Regions from separate parts of the Homo sapiens genome. Here all the other regions are linked to region 1. The links come from fine-mapping of genetic effects on gene expression. A gene starts in region 1. Each other region holds a variant in brackets. All regions are shown on one strand. Distances are from middle to middle.

The links. PIP is the estimated chance that this variant, and not a neighbour inherited with it, causes the effect.
Region 2: its variant is fine-mapped to the expression of ZMIZ1 in whole blood (TOPMed, PIP above 0.99).
Region 3: its variant is fine-mapped to the expression of ZMIZ1 in blood mononuclear cells (TOPMed, PIP above 0.99).

The regions. Positions count from the first base shown.
Region 1 is chr10:79,066,043-79,071,259 of GRCh38, reverse strand. It overlaps ZMIZ1 (zinc finger MIZ-type containing 1), which reads right to left and starts at 2,294. Exons shown (of 25, transcript NM_020338.4): 1 at 1,990-2,294. ZMIZ1-AS1 (ZMIZ1 antisense RNA 1) reads left to right here and starts at 3,812. Exons shown (of 10, transcript NR_024431.2): 1 at 3,812-3,872; 2 at 4,674-4,812. RefSeq lists enhancers at 1,284-1,333, 2,535-3,380, silencers at 1,534-2,513, 2,774-2,843, 3,644-3,853, 3,954-4,003, 4,044-4,253 and a cis regulatory region at 1,976-2,661.
Region 2 is chr10:79,296,456-79,301,672 of GRCh38, reverse strand. It overlaps ZMIZ1 (zinc finger MIZ-type containing 1), which reads right to left. Exons shown (of 25, transcript NM_020338.4): 13 at 5,020-5,202; 14 at 3,983-4,060; 15 at 3,093-3,267; 16 at 2,482-2,623; 17 at 731-941. Among named protein-coding and RNA genes, the nearest start is that of PPIF, 48 kb to the left of the region's middle. The variant C/A (reference allele first, on the strand shown) is at 2,819.
Region 3 is chr10:79,282,866-79,288,082 of GRCh38, reverse strand. The region is part of intron 8 of ZMIZ1 (zinc finger MIZ-type containing 1); the gene reads right to left. Among named protein-coding and RNA genes, the nearest start is that of PPIF, 62 kb to the left of the region's middle. RefSeq lists enhancers at 811-1,461, 1,296-1,915, 1,462-2,112, 2,326-2,515, 2,966-3,085 and cis regulatory regions at 1,240-1,740, 1,249-1,749, 1,265-1,765, 1,363-1,863, 2,351-2,851. The variant A/G (reference allele first, on the strand shown) is at 2,560.

The sequences.
Region 1 (5,217 bases):
CCCAGGTTGCAGCAGGGAGACAAACTGTTGCTCAAGAAAATCCTTCAGAAAACCCTTGGCACCAGGAGGCAGCTCGGAGCGGCTCTGCACCCGGCGCGGAGCCAGGGGCTTCCACAGGCGGCCGCCCACTGCCCTTTTAAATCTTTGGGGCTGGGCCCTACTCTCCCATGCCCTGGGCTGTCCACCCAGAGGGCTCCAAATGTCCGTGGCAGAGCAGAGAGGAGGGAAAGGCTGGCCGAGCCGTGCCCTCACCCCGCCAGCCCAGCCGCCAGCTTCTTGGAGGACCTCTGAGAGAACATTTGTTTGGGCTGCCAAGTTAAATCTTCCTCCCTCATGTCAGGGCATTGGAAAAGCAGTCAGGGGAGAGGAGAAGGGGGAGAGCGCGCGGGGGAAGGAGCAGCGGGAGGGAGGGAGGGAGGGAGGCAGGCGGGCAGGCTCAAAGCCCCAGTTACTCGGGCACTGCCTACCCAGGAAGCTGACGGCTCCCGGGCAGGCGCAGCCGGGGCTCCGGGCACCGAAGCAGGGACCCGGCCGTCAGGCCTCCCCGGTCAGGCAAGGGTACCAAGCACCCTTGGCCCACCTGGGAGCGGCCCTCGCTCTGTGACCTGCTGGAGGGACGAGGTGGGAAGGGAAGGCAGAGAAGGAAAAAGTTTGCTGCAGGTAGAGGGGTAGGGCTGGGCGGCAGTGCCGACCGGCTGTCCCCGGGGAGGGGTGGGGGGCCCGGACCGGCTGCCCTGGCGCGCTCCCGTCCGCCCGCCCTCCCGCCCGGGTTGTTTACATTCCTGGAGTGTCTTTTAAACCCGGGGCTGAGGCCGGCTCCCGGCCTTCTCCGGCGGCTCCGGGGCAGTCTCCCGTGAAAATCTGCTGGCGCACAATGGCCGGGAAGGCGGCCGCCCCTCGCCCGCGCCCCCACCGCTCCAGGGCGGGGAGCCTGCCCTCCGCACCGCGCCCTATCCCCGCCCGGCCGGCTTCCTGGACAGATGTCCCCAGCGAGGGGGCGACGCGCGCCCGCTGCCCGCGCCCTAGACGCCGAGGCCGCGCTCCCCACTGTTTTTTCCCCAGCCCAGACGCCAGGAATGTGAAGCAAGCTTCCAGAACCCGCCTCCCCCCCCCGACCCCGGCTCCAGCCCCGGCCCCCCAACCTCCGCCCCGGCTGGCCTCCCACTCCCCCGGGGCCACCGCCGCCGGAGACGGAGAGGAAGAAAGAACACGGGGAAATTACTTTCGTATTTGCAACGCGCGCGCGCACACACACGCACATCTTCCCCCTGGGCTCCCCTCCTGGCCGGGGCAGCCCCGTCCAGGCACTGGCCTGAGCGCCCCTCTGGCTTGCGAAGCCCTGGGAGAAAACCCTGCACACACACCTCCGCGTTTCTCGTTTGTACCGCGCGCCAGCTTTCCCCGGGCAATTCCCACACAAACAACTTAACCGCGCCCCCACCTCCCATTTACAAAAGTGTATGTTTTCCCTGGAAATTCAGACGCACAAGTTAACACCACCACCCCTTGCCATCCTGAAATCCAGCGCTTTCCCCAGCGGTTCCTGTACACACACAGGCGCACAACTTCGCATCTCCCCAGAGGAGGCGAAGGAGACCGAGGCGGTCCTTCCCTCCCTCCTCCGATTCCCGGTCCTGCCCGGCCCCCGGGTGTAGGGAGCGAGGGCTGGAGGCGCGCCGGCAGGAGGCGGGCACCGGGTCCGCGCGCGCACGACCACACTTACGCCCCGCACACCCTGACAAACCCGGCCCCCACGCGCAGCCCAAGCCGGCTCCGCGCAGCCGGGAGCTCGCCGGCCGCCGGGCCTCGGCCCCCGGCCGCCAAGGAGAGCGGAGCGGAGCCCGCGCCGCCGGCCGGTCGCCCCGCTCCGGGGGACACTTTAAGGGAAAAACCCCAGCACCCAATCCCCACGCTTGCACCCCGAGAGTCCCCGGGGAGCGGGAGGTAGCCCCGGAGCCAGCGGGCGCCTGGCTCTGGCCCCAAACTTACCGGGCGCTGCGAGCGCCGCTGCCGCCGCTGGAGGACGCGCCGCCGCCACCGCCGGGTAGGGCAGGCTCGGGCCGGGAGGAGCGCAGCGAGGGCGCCGAGATCCGCTCGGCTCCGGCTCCTGCTCCGCGCCGGCTGGGGCTGGGGTCACCGCGCTGCGCCGGCGTTGCTCGCTCGCTCGGCCGCCCGATCGCTGCTCGCCCGCCTGCCGCCCGGCCGCCCGCTCTCCCCGGCGCCCGCCGCCGCCGCTCGCTTTTTTAATGTCCACAGACAGTGAAAAGGAACTCGGCGTTAGGGGGTGAGTAAGTGAATCAACTCGCCCGGAGCCGAGCAAGTTGAAGTGTCAGATTACATTGGCTATTCTATTTCCAAAGGGCCCCGCGCCGCCGGCCGCCCGCAAAAGCCGGTGCGGAGTCAGGCCGGAGTGGAGCGCCGCGCCGCGCCGCCGCCGCTGCCGGCGCTCGGCTTGGCTCGCGCTCTGCGCTCTCTTTCCCCTTTCCTTTTCGCCTCTCCTCGTTCTCTCCCTCGCCTTTCCTTTCCTTTCTCTTCCTCTCTTCCTCGCTCCTCGGTCTCGGCGCTCTCCCAGCTTTTCTTCTCCTGGCTCCTGGTTCCCCGCTACGCCACCAGTCCACTCACCTCTCTCCTTGCCCTACTCCCTCCGCTACTCCCTGACGCCCCCTGCAGCCCCCAGCCCCCCTGCAGGCCCCAGCCCCAGTAAGTTTGGAGAGGGGAACAAATGCTGAGCCTAGGTAGGGACCACCTTGGGGAGGAAGCCAAAATCACACTGCTCACCCGAGAGCCCCTGCCCCGCGCTGGCACGCCCCCGCCTGGAGTGCACTCGTGGCCCCGGGCGCTGTCAGGTACCCGAATTGGGGTAAGCGAGTTGGTAACTGGACCTCCAAAGCCTTCCCCTGGGGTTGACTTTGGAATTGTTCCTACAGCCCGGGGACTGGTGGTTGGGGTGGGAAGAGGACCACCACCACCAAGGGTGACTTTGAGGGAGACTAGAGCGCGGCCCCCCGACAGCTGTGGGGGAGCGGGGGTGTGGTGGCCACAGTTGATCCGCGGCACCTAGCACAGTCCAGAGACGCGTGGATTCCCCTAGGCCCGGCGCGGAGCGCCCGGGGCGCTGTGCGCGCGGGCTGCGTGGGAGCTGCTAGGCTGGGGCCTGGCCCTCTGCCCCGGACTGGGCACTGCCAGAGATAGCGGAGAGCTAAGGTACTCACGAGGCGCAGTTGGGTGCACCCACTCGCGGGAGTTCCCCTAGCCGACCCACCCCCCCCCCCCGAGAGCATCCAACTACGCGCCCACTTTGGCTCACGTCCACTGCCACTCTCACGGAAACTCCTACAAGAACGGCACACACGTTCGCTCCCTCAGCATTGCAAACACGCTCCCCCCCAAACCACAAACGCGCCCCCACACACTCGCTTACTTTCCCTCACAAAGATGCCCGCTTACACGGCCACAGCAGGCACGCTCAGAGACACGCAGTTACACACACACATCGCTGTACACAACCCCACATACAATCAAAAAACAAAACACGAAACGTTCCCCTGGGCACTAAATCCTCACGTTAACGTACACACACAAACACACGCCCTCCTCTCCCACTTCCTCTTCCATACCCCTTCCTCGAGGCCCCCCACCCCTGATTTTCGGCACCCCCAGTCCCAATCATAATTGGCGCCCGCGCAGCCCTCTTTGGACACACACGCGCCGCCCACGCACGCGCTCCCCTCCCCGGCAGGCGGGGGCGGCTTCGGCCGGGAGCCGGCGGAGCCCGCTTCGGATTCCAGGTGTGGCAGTGACTCCGCGCTCCACGTTTTGCAGGCTGCCACCGTGTCGGAGGCGAGGCGAGGAAGGGAGCTGGAATAACAAAGGCAAGTTGGGGAGAGCGCAAGGGGGCGCAGCCCCGGCCGGGCTGCGGGGGGAGCCTTGCACGGCCGGGGCTTCGGAGGCTGCAGGGTCGGGGGCGCGGGGAGCCGGAGGTGGGGGAGGAAGGGTGGGGGGAGAGGGGCGGGGCTGAGGCGTGACGTCAGAGAACAATGACACCGCCGGGGGGCGGGCACCCGGAGGCGGCCCAGGCGGGGGTCTCCCCCGGGGCCTGGGGCGGGCCGAAGATGTCCAGGCCTGGCCGGAGCCGCCTCCTGATTGACGAGGCCCGCATGGGAGTGCGGACGTGCAGCACAGATTTGCGGGTCTCCTGGGCCTCTTGGGCGGTGATCAGCGCGGACCTTGGGCCAACCGGGGAAGCAGGCCGGAGCACTACCCCCCACCCCCATTTTAGAACATCCTTCTGAGGGCTTCGCTGACCTCGGCTTGAACTCCTTCAGAGCCGGAGAGATCACTCCTTCCACCACCGAGGGAGAGGAGGCAAAATGAATTTGCCAGCTTTGAATTCATTCTCAAGGCTCCGCTAGTCTCACAGCCAGTGAACTCAGTCTGGAATTCCTGAAAGCTCAGAAAACTGCTGCTTAGGTCCACCCGGGCGTGGGGGACGGGGTGTGTGGGGGCGCAGGCGGCGGAGTGGGGGCGTTATTTTATTTTCCCCAGGGGAAATTCTGCCTCCCTATGCCATTGGGTGCAAGAAAAGGCACTCCTTTGGGGCCTCAGTCTTCCTACCTGTCACATGGACATGGACTGTGATGACTGCTGCTCTTCCACCCCCGCCCTCCCTGTAGGTGGCAGCTGAGCATCCCTGGAGAGGGTGGGTGGTATGAAAGCACTTCCAGACCTCTAGGGACACCAGGGAGTCATGGTCCCAGCACATTGCTGTGTGATTGAGCCCCTCCTCAGCCTGTGGGTGGCCTAAGTTCACAGGTAGGTACACCAGGGCCACCTGAGAAACCTCCGAAGGTAGGAATTAAGCTTGCAGAACGGTGGCTGCAGCCACAGCTGTCCCACTCCCAGCAATCCACAGCATTGCAGCAGTGGCAGCAGCCACCCCATACCCAGGTCCAAAATCCCAAAAGAGAGTTTCTGGGTATTTAAGGATTTGGGATGTGATAATCCAGCCCAGCCCACAATTAGACCAGTTCTTGTTGCCTTAATGACCAGCTAGGTCTGGACGCCCAGCCCTCTCAACCTTTCTGTCCAGATTCCTCAATAAGTATCCAGGGCCTGCCCACTTCCAGGAATTGGGGGATGCAGGTGACCTCGGAGGTGACCACTCATGTTCAAAGTCTCCTGTCCAGAAGCTCCACCCCCTACCCCACATCCCAGCCC
Region 2 (5,217 bases), 230 kb before region 1:
ATTCCCCAGCCAGAATGGGATGTGCTGCCCAGGTCTGTGACCCCTATCTCTGTGTAGCCTCCGTGCCCCTAAGCTCACAAGGGTGGATCAGAGTGTTTCCTTCTCCATGCCTCCACAGAGAGGCCAGTGGAGTGGGGCAGGCAATTTACTTCCACTGGGGCCTGAGCAAGCCCTGTGTGTTGGGCCCTGATCTTCAGGGGACATGAGGGTGGCTGAGAGCTGGTCCTAGGTAACAAGTCACGGGTTGGAAGGACCCCCATACGTGACTCTAAGACAAGGGGGTTGGGAAAGAAGGGAACGCGTTAACTCCAGGTTTGGGGGCGTTGGGTCTGGGGGAAAAGGTGCTGACAATGACAACTGCTGGTGAATGAGGCAAGCAGGACATGGCTTTGAGGAACACAGAACTGCACCAATGAATGAAGGGTAGGGAGGAGGGGCCAGGAGGGGTGAATCGGAAGCATGTGTGGAGAACAGACGGAGGCTGAGTGTCCAGGGGAAGAGGCCACGTCTGAAGCCAGGGCACAGTGGCTTTGAAGGCCCAACGGTTTGAAGGTTATTGCACAGGCCCTGGGCACAGGTAAGGGGACGCTGTATCTTTGGCGGCTGTGGGCACGGGGGTGGTGACGCAGGGACAAGGCTGAGGACCAGAGTGGGGCAGGGTATTCCGCACTCTCATGCCGTGAAACAGGGCCTGCCTGTGCCAACGCTGCCCCTGGCCCACCACACTCACGCAGCAGCAGGCCGTGACGGTGATCTGGATGGTGTTGCGGCCCGGCTGGCACACGTGCTTCAGGTGCAGGGGCTTGTGGGAGGTCTTGTTGTCGCCGCGCTCAATGGTGAGGGGCGTGGCGTTCACGCTGACCTGCACCGAGGCGGGCCAGTTGGTGTTCATCTGCCGGTCCTCGTGGTGGTAGCACTTGAACTGCAGCTCCAGGTCAGACCTAGGTGGGGAACGAGGGTGCTCAGGGCAGCTCTGCCAGGGGGCTGTCCATGGCCTCCGTGACCCCGAGCCAGGTCACACACCTCTAAACACACCACAACCTCCGAGATCCTCAGGACCCCATCCCTGACCCCAATGATTCCCCCAGCCTGAGTTCTCCTCTCCCATTCTGGATACTCCCTCTACACCCAAACTGCCCCCAAGACCCCCGCACACCAATCATTCCCATCACACCCCACAGCTCTAGCTCCCATCTCCCTGGAATGTCCTCCCTGTAGGGGTCAACTCCTGGATCCCCAGGACAGAGACAGAGGGGCAAATGAACAGGCACTCATTTGACAAGACCTGCTGTGAGGCCAGCCAACCCCATCTCTAGACCTGCTGGGAGCTGTCCTCCCAGGCCACGGCCATTTCTGGTTCTGAGCACTCCCCAAGGAGGCCCCCCAAGGACGCAGCACTGAGGAGTGTCAGGAACCAGCAGTGACCATATATGTGTGACAAGCAAGCCAGGAAGAGGAGGCCTCCCAGGCCAGGACACTCCCAGCTAAGGAGCGTGGGTGAGCAGGGTGCAGGCAGGCAGCACAGTGGTTTGTCCCGTGCCAGGGACCTCTGTCCTCCTGCCTGAGCGTTGCAGCTCCTGTGTTCTGAACGCCCACACCAGCTATCTGTGGCCACCTCACCCAGCCTGCTCAGCATGGTCAAGAAAACAGCAGGGGTGTGTGTGCATGTGCCAGGCACAGACCCAGCTCTTGCGCTGGAGATGCTCACTGGGCAGTCAAGGGGGTCTGAGTCACAAGCACAGTGAGACTGTGAGTCTTGACTGAGGATGAAGGACTGAAGGGTGGACACCCCCAGGGTTGGTTCTGGCATCCTGGAGACCTGGGCCCAAGTCTCAGCTCCGCCCCTGGCTAGCTGTGAGAACTCACACAAGCCAATTCACTTCTCTAGCCTCAGCTTCCTCCTCTGTCAAAAGGGAAAGTGTTGCCCATTTCCAAGATCAAAGTGGGTCACACGTGGAAGGTGCTGAGCATGGGCCTGGCTCAGCAGGGAACCTCCGGACCTTGTGTTCCAGCACGTGCCTAAGTGTCTGAGCAGCAGCCCTGCCCAATGGTCAGCCCCCTGCAATAGATGGGGCCTGCCTGACCCCGGCCTGGCCCTTGCACCAGCCTCATCTCTGCATTCCTGGCTCTGGCCACATGAGTCACACTCGAATTCTTGACTGCGTTCCCTCTTGTCAGCTCACGGTCTCAGATGGGATACACAGCTTCCCAGCCTAGGTCTGAGCCAGCCACCTTTTCCTCTGGGGTGAGTGACAGCTGCTCCCTGCCCTTGGGCCACGACACCTTGACTGCTCATCTACCTGTGCACCTGCAGACTTCCCATGACAACCGCAGGACAGGGCCCAGTCAATGATGCTGAACACGTGAAGGTGTCAGAAGATGCTGCTACCCCCTGCCCAGGGCCCCACTCGGGCCCAAGGAAGCCATCCCAGGGGACCTCCTTCATCCCGCCTGGGCTGGCGCCCCTGCCCTGACACGCACCTCCACATCAGCGTCTGGTGGACCGTGGGCCGCAGGTGGAACACATGGTTGCTGACCGCCAGGTTGTGCTCCAGGCGGAAGGGCTCCAGCACCACGCCATCCCGCACAGGGAATGTGAGCCGCAGCTCGTCATTGTGGTTGGCTGGGGCGAGGAGAGGAGGTGGGTGAGCCACAAGCCTCAGCTGCCATGGGTTCTGGGGCTGTAGGTGGGACTTGCTCACCCTGGGCTGCATGCTCAGAGGAAGGCAGGGGTGTGTAAACAGGGCCAGAGACATAGCCAGTCCAAGGGCACACCAGTGAGTCATGGCTTCTTCGATTCTACACGGCCCCGCCCCAG[C/A]GACTCATCCCCTCTTCTTCCACCCGCCTCCTTGCATCCTTCCATGGCTGCGTATAGATTTTCCTCCCAGCCTCCAGGCGCCCAGGCAGCAGTAAGAAAGGCTGTCTGTGAGCTGCCTACCCCGCCTTGAGTGTGCCCCTGGGTATCTCACCTGCTCTCAACTCTCTGCCCCTTCTGATGCCCACTCCCCAGGCAGCCTGACTGCGAAGCCCCTGCTCCCGGCCCACTGGGGGGCCCAGGTGGAGCTGCCAAGAGAGGGAGGGAGGGCCCTCACCTGGGGGTGGTGGCAGAGCGCTCATATTTGGCTTGATGTCAGGCGGGAAGGGTGGTTTGACGTCTTGGCTGGGGGACAGGTATGGAGGGATGCTGCTCCCAGGGGTCATGGGGGGTGTGGGGTTCCCTGGAACAGGTGAGTGGGGGTAATTTGCCACAGGAACCGGCCTGGGAGGCTGGAGGGAAAGAAAAGACACGCACGAGTTATGGGATTACGGAGACAGAAGGGGCCATGGCTATGGACATACACCGCACTCATCCCAGGGGCCTGGAGCCATGCCCCTCGGGAGGAGAGCCTCCTCCAGGGAAACTCTTCTCTCTCGCAGATCTCTGTCCTGCTCAGAAGACAGCCCTGGGAAGGGCCTCCCCACCCTTCATCTGGGTCTCACCACTGAGCTCCTGTGTCAGGTGCCTGTGGAGACCCTTACCCATCCCTGTGATAAATGGGGACACAGAGGCTCAGGGTTGGGGACTTGCTCAGCACAACCCTTGGAGGACAGGACAGCGGGAATGAAGCCCAGGCCTCCTGTCACCCGAGCAGGTGGGCTTCCCACATCACGACTCAAGGCCACACCCTCTATGCCTACCCCATCAGGGTCCCCAGGTGGAGTCGGGGCCTGCAGAATCTGGGGCCCAGGTTCCCCAGGAACCCCTCTCCCTCTCCTTGTTTTCAAGACTAGCCAGGCTGACACTTTACCCTGGGGCTCACCCCACCTGGAGCCGTGGATTCTCAGTCCTGAGCATCTCTGTCCCCAGGACAGGGGACCAGGGAGTGCACCCCCACCCATGGGCCCCTTTGAATGTCCAGAGAGGCTGGAGCAGGAACAGTGAGAACCTTTAGAGGCAACAACTCCCTGTGGCTTAGAATTTGTAAATTAAATTGGAACATACCCTGTTGACATTCCCTTGGCTGTAGTTACTGTAGCTGCTTCCCGAGAACGTGTTATTTTGTCCATTAAACTGTTCTGGCTATTAAAACAAGATAAACAACACTGAGTGGGGGGCAGAAAAGCCATCAGAAGCCCGCTCTCCCTCTGGACAGTAAAATCTACCAGGAGCACGGGGATGCTACAGGGGCCCATCCACTGCTGGGTATATTGAGTGAGCAGGGCGGGACAGCTACACCTCAGGGACGGCATTTTGCCTCTCTCTGTCCCTAGCTATTAATTTAGCAGAAGTTACAAAAATAGCAACACCTAGTATGCTGAAGTTGGAGCAAAAACGGTAAACCTGTTTGGTAGATGGCCATAATAAATTAGCATGATTTTTGGCAAATAAATGTAAAATAATAAAGTGTCTTCTTTACTCCCAAGAAAATAATCCTAAGGAAAGGAAAGGCTATATGCCTGAAGATACTCATCATAGTGTTATTTCTAAAGTGAAAAATCAGAAGCAACCCAAATACCTAACAGAAGGAATAATAAAATATGATATGGTGATCTCAGCAGAATATTAGGCAGCCATTAAAAGTAAAAACCCCAGGGGCTCTAGTAGCAGTAAGTATCATCCTTATTATGTCATGTTAAGTAAAAGGTACAGATTCAAAGTTACAGCTGTAATAACAATTTTATAACATGTTAGTGCCCACCTGCACATACAAAGTTTAGAATGAAATGTTAATATATACAGGGGATGTGTGTTTTTTTAATAAAATATATTTCCTTTATTATTTTGTGAGTGCCGTGAATAAGAAAAGGAGAAAAAAAAACCATCATCCGAGACGAATGAGAATAGGAACTGAGAAAAGCCACTCTGACATTCTGGCCACCGAACTTCGCCCTGAACACATGGGGACGTTCAGAAATCACCCACCCCTCGCTGTCCTTGGGGCAAACACACGCAGGGTCAGAGTGATCCCGGTGGAGTTAGGGGAGTGAGGTGGTTAGGAGGGAAGGGGCCCCGTGGGTGGTGGCGAGGCTGGGACTCACCTTGTAATACTGCCCCATGTTGACCGTGGGGGGCGGGTACTGCCCGGAGCTCGGCTGGCTGGGCATCCTCTGTCCTGGGTAGTTGGGGGAGGTGAGTGGCCTCGGGGGGTTGGGGGCTGGGTACTGGCCTGGCTGGGTGGGGAACTGGCTGTTTGGTCCATATTGCTGGTTTCCATAGTTGGGCTGTGGTGGGAGAGA
Region 3 (5,217 bases), 220 kb before region 1:
ACCCTCTGCCCTAGATTTCTCAGCCTGGCCAGCCCCTCGCTTTCTTCCTGTCTGAGATCGCTGGAGGGGCCTCCCCCGCCCTCCTCGTATAAAAAAGCAGCTCCTACCCGACACTGCCTGCCCCCTCACCCTGGCACTGGAATTTTTTTCATAGCACTCCACCACTGTCCTAATTATATATTTTTTTGATTATTGTCTGTCTGCCTCTAGAACAGCTCTGTGACGGCAGAGACTTTTGTGCTTAGGACCCTGGTGCAAGTTTCCTCACTCAATCTCCTCATCTGTAAAATGGGCATCAGATGATACCTCCCCACTCTACTCTGTGTTTTCCAACTGTGGGTTACAGAATCTGAGCAGGTGATGACATCCAACCAGCAGGGGAGAAAAAAGCATCAACTAGAAAGTGATGGAGTGTGAGCACACAATAAAGATGAAGATTAGTCCTTGAGCTTCTGTCTTGGTTTTATACACAAATACATGTGCACCTTGGGTCAAGGTGTCGTATGTGTATTTATCGTGGATCTTGGTCAAATAGGTTTGAACACAGGTTCAGCAGCCTAAATCTGATGTGGCTCAAAGAGGAGAATGCAGTCAAAGGGCTTTCCCAACTGAGCGCTGCTCGTGATTTCTGGGGAAACTGCAGGACTCGCATTTGGAGTAGAGGAGCTGTACTCAGGGCACTCAGTTGGCCAGGCACAATGATGGGTAGTGGCTTGTTGAAGATCCAGATGCTTGGGCCAAAGGTGACAGATAGCGACAGACTCTGCTCTCCAGGTGGCGGATTGGAGACTGGGAGCCCAGAGGGAGTGGGCAGTGCAGAGAAACACAGGAAAGTAGCCATGAGCCTGCTCCTCAGGAAGGCTGGGCTGGAACAGCCTCTGTCTCCCAGGGAGGTCACTGGGGACCCGGCACACCACCTGGTTCCAGACTGGCACACCAGAGTCTCACAGGGAGGCTCTACAGGTCACGCTTTTACAAAACAAAGAGGAGATCCCCTGGACACCTGCTGTCCTCAAGGCCCATGTCCTAGGTGTGCTGGATGACCAGAGGGGGTCCCCTACATCTGAACAAAACCCAAGCCTGAGTGGCTTCTCGCCCCAGAACTTCTGCCCCACAAGTTCCCACCAACCCTCCAGGCTGATGGCCTTGAGACGGAAGTTCCTATCCTTTGAGAACATGCCTGGCCAGGCTCAGGAAATGAACCCCCATGGGAGGCCCCAGGGGCCGGCAGGGCCCTGCCTGTGGCCAGGGAGTGGGCAACTGCTGCCTCATCACCTCAGCCCAGGACGCTACACAGGCCCACGAACAAGCTCCCAACTGCCCTGCAGCTCCGTGGGTGAGCCTTGTGGGCGGAAACCAGCTCCTTCCTGTTTTGTCCCCTCTGCCCCAAACTTGGTGAGAAGCAAAGCTAACCAACGTTCCCAAACTGGCCATCCCACTGCCTGGCTGGAAGGTTTGCCGCCCCAGAGCAAAGATGCACGCAGGCATATGGAGGACACATCCGTGCACACACGCGAGGCCCTGCTGGCATGCTGCCCGTGCACTGGGGAAGAGACAGGCACAGCGTGTGGGGCAGTCTCAGGACTAGCTTGCCTCCACACGCACCTGCTGCAGAAGCAGAAGTGGCAGCCGCACCGACAGGACCGTGACTCATCTCATTCTGGGGGAGACGGGCTCCTGCTGTCGCAGAGAAGGCTCTCGCCCCCGCAGGCCCCCACAGCAGCCCTGCTGATGTGACGCCACTGCCTAGACTCAAGATACCACCACCGGGGGAATGCCTGGTCCCTGTTCCCAAGGATGAAGGACCAAGCAGACCCCTGGGCTGCTACCAGAAAGGCATGGCCTGGCTGGGATGGGAGGAGGGTCTGGAGGGTGCCTGAGAGCCCTTCTTCTCTCCGACGAGCACAGTTTAACCTGCAGACTTGCTTCACCTGGTCACAGGTGCTTGGCATTTTTTAATAATTCTGTCCCACTCTGTACAACCCTAATCCAGCATGGCCTGCCCAGTATCACACCATAAGCTGCTCCCAGCCACAGTCCTGTCCAGCCAAAACGGCCCCAACAATCCTGCTCCACCCACAGAAGCACCAAGGCCAGAAGCCATCTGCAATGTCAGCAGCAACGGTTCCATTTGCCAACTGCTCCCTAATACAGGGGCCTCTGTGCCTCTTCTCAGGCTGGCAAGTTCCATCCCACCTTGAAAATGCCATTCATCCTTTCCAGGCTCTTCCAAAGGCCACCTCCTCCGGGAAGCCCTTGCAGAAGGTACTGAACTCCACTGGCTCTTCGCATTCCTGGCAAGAGTGAGAACCCTCTGCCTTCTCCCTTCTGCCTCAGGAGCTGTCACTGATTTCTTGGGCTCCCTGAGCCAAGCATGATGTCTTCACACACCAATAGGGCTCAGGAAACCTTTGCTAAACAAAAAAATGTGCCAGGGAGAAACCACCTCTCTGCACTCACCCTTGGAGTGATGCTGAAAATGAATATGTCCATTTCGTTAAGCCTGATGACCGACCACCTACACAGTGTGTCTGTGGCCACATGGCCACTGGGGCCCAG[A/G]AAGTGAGAGAAGGACACAGAGGGAAGCGATGAAACCACTGCTCACTCTCTGTATGCCTCAGCAACCTCATCTATGAAATGGGGCTGATTCAGCCCCTCCCTTCGAAGGCTGCCGTGAGGGTTAAGTGTAAGTGCCTAACATGTATGAGGCCCAGAGTCCCGCACACCTTGGACACCCTGAAACTGCTGGCTGCCGCTGTTACTGTTGTTCTGATTTACTGAGTGACTTCTAGATGCAAGGAATTTTGTGAAGTGGCCTTCACCTAAGAACTCATTCAGTGCCCCATTAAGTGGGCCCAACAGATGCCCATCTTAGAAGCTGGGGCTCACAGAGGTAGCAGAGCCAATCAAGGGCAAGGCTGCCGGGTCACCAGACCGTATCAGGCTCACCACTGTCTTAGGAACTTAGGATCCAGCAAGGCAACGCTCCCCTCTCCAGAGATGGCCACGAGGCAAGGGAGCACACTGCAGAGGCCACCTAGAAGCCACAAGAATTCCAAGAAGGGCTGCATCTTCCTGGGGGTTCTTGGGGAAGTCGCCTAGCACGAAGGGACAGGGGAAATGTAAAGATGGGCCTCAAAGCCCAGCTGCAGAGAAAACCCAAATAGTCTTCCAGGAAAGAATTTCTTTATACACTAAATCGTCTGCTTTAGCTTGTACTGGCCGTGTTGGCAAAGATTCAGGGACCCCTTTTTGAGGTTAATATTCAGCCGACAGAGGGAGGCCCAGCAGGAGAGAGGTTCCCTATGTGGGCTCTGGAGTTACAGTCTTCCGGGTCAAACCCTGGCTCTGCCACTGAAGCTTTCTGTGGCCTTGGACATGTTACTTTCAGTCAGCCTCAACTTTCTCATCTGTAAAGTGGGACTAACACTTTCCTAAGAAACATGAGAAAAAAGTAAAGTTTAGCACAGAACCTGGTAGAAAGACCCTGCTCAACTGTACTTACACCTTTCTCTCCAGTCCTCCAACCAGCCATACACAGCTACCCCTGTTTACTTCAGGATACAATGAAAGTGGCCTAGGAATTTTTCAAATATGCTACCAATGGGAGGAGCCGTTTTCATTCCTACCTGTCAACTAGAAAAAATGTGCTTCTCAAGCCTCTGAGACTTTCTTCATTTTTCTTCTGCCTTCCCTTCACCAGCCAGCAAACTTCTATCCATACTTCAAAGCCCAGCCTGCATACTCCCTTTAAGGACCCTCCTAAGCAGAACCAAGGACACTTTCCTCTGTTCCCTCAGCACTTTTTTCACGTATTTTATAGAGAGCTCTCTGCACTGCAGTCACAGTAGACAGTTTACATGTCTGTGCCAGCTCCACGGGCAATGATCGAGGTTTTGCTGAATGTGAGAAAATGAGCAAGGCCTGGGATAAGGCAGTGATGATTCCTGGCTCCTGTGCACCCGCTATGGCAGCATCTACACACACATTCATGAAAGGAACGCGGGGGGAGGGCTGAGTTATTTCTTCCCTTGCACTTGTAATAGCTGCTTTATTTGGGAGAAATAACCAATTTCCATTAAGGGTATTGTCAGACTCTAATTAATTTCCCTGATCCAGCCATACTGGTCCCGTCTCCGTGCAAGGCTGTAGTGTTACTGCTAATGAAATGCCAAGCCAGTGAGGAGCTGAAGCTCCCACCCTGTTTAATTTAGGGGAACCATTAACAGTGTTCTCCATCATCACAATTACTGGGGCCTACTTCCTTCCCTCCCTGCGGTGAAACTTAGGAACTTGTGCAGCTAACTGCATATTAGAGGGTGTTAAAACTTTTTCAGTAGGAAGGAGGAAAGGAAAAAATCCTTTGCATCTTGGCCATCTGGAACTGATGGTGCAGGGATTTATGGGTCTTTCAATTCTCCCCTTTCCTTCTTTTTTTGTTTTTAAAATGTTCTTGGGGCAACAAAGCCCTAACATAAACTGAGCTTTGGTGAAGCTATGCAAAACCGAGCTAAAAATGGCAGCTGTGGAGATGGTGTGATGTGGCTGGTTTTGATTGCCCCCTTCTTTCTTGTTTGGCCATGAATAAGCACTTAAGAATTTGATGGCACCTGGCTGAGGATCAGGGGAATAATGACTGGTCCATGGGCTCCCAGTGTGCCAGGCTTGGCGACAAGCACACCACTCCTGCCACTGTTGTCACTCCCCTTCTACAGATGAGGAAACCGAGGCACAAGGAGGGTAAGTAACTGGCCAGTTACCCAGCTAGAATATGGCCCAGCTGAAACTCAAGGCCCAGCAGCCTGGCTCCAGGGCCTGTTCCCCGACCTGCTATACTCAGGGGATGCCAGGGGCCCTCCCGCCCAGAAGCCTCTCTGTTGGGGTTCATAAATCCCGCACCTATAAGAAGGAGGAAGGCACCTCTCAATCTTGGAGGCTTCCCCAGCCCTAGCGAGTTTTGACTGTAATCAAATTAACAGCATAAACAAGATTTATTAGGCCTTTAATTACCTTTGCAACACTGATCTGCATAAGGACAATGTGCTAATCACAAATGGCTTTTTAAACCACTCATTAAAAATCTGGAAGAAGGAGGTTGAAAGACTTCACTGGCTTCAAGTCCAGGTCACTGCAGGGACTTGGAAGGTGCCCTACTTGCCCAGGCACTGGTCCTGGACCTTGCCAGGCCTCTCTGGCCACCTTCTCTTGTATAGTATC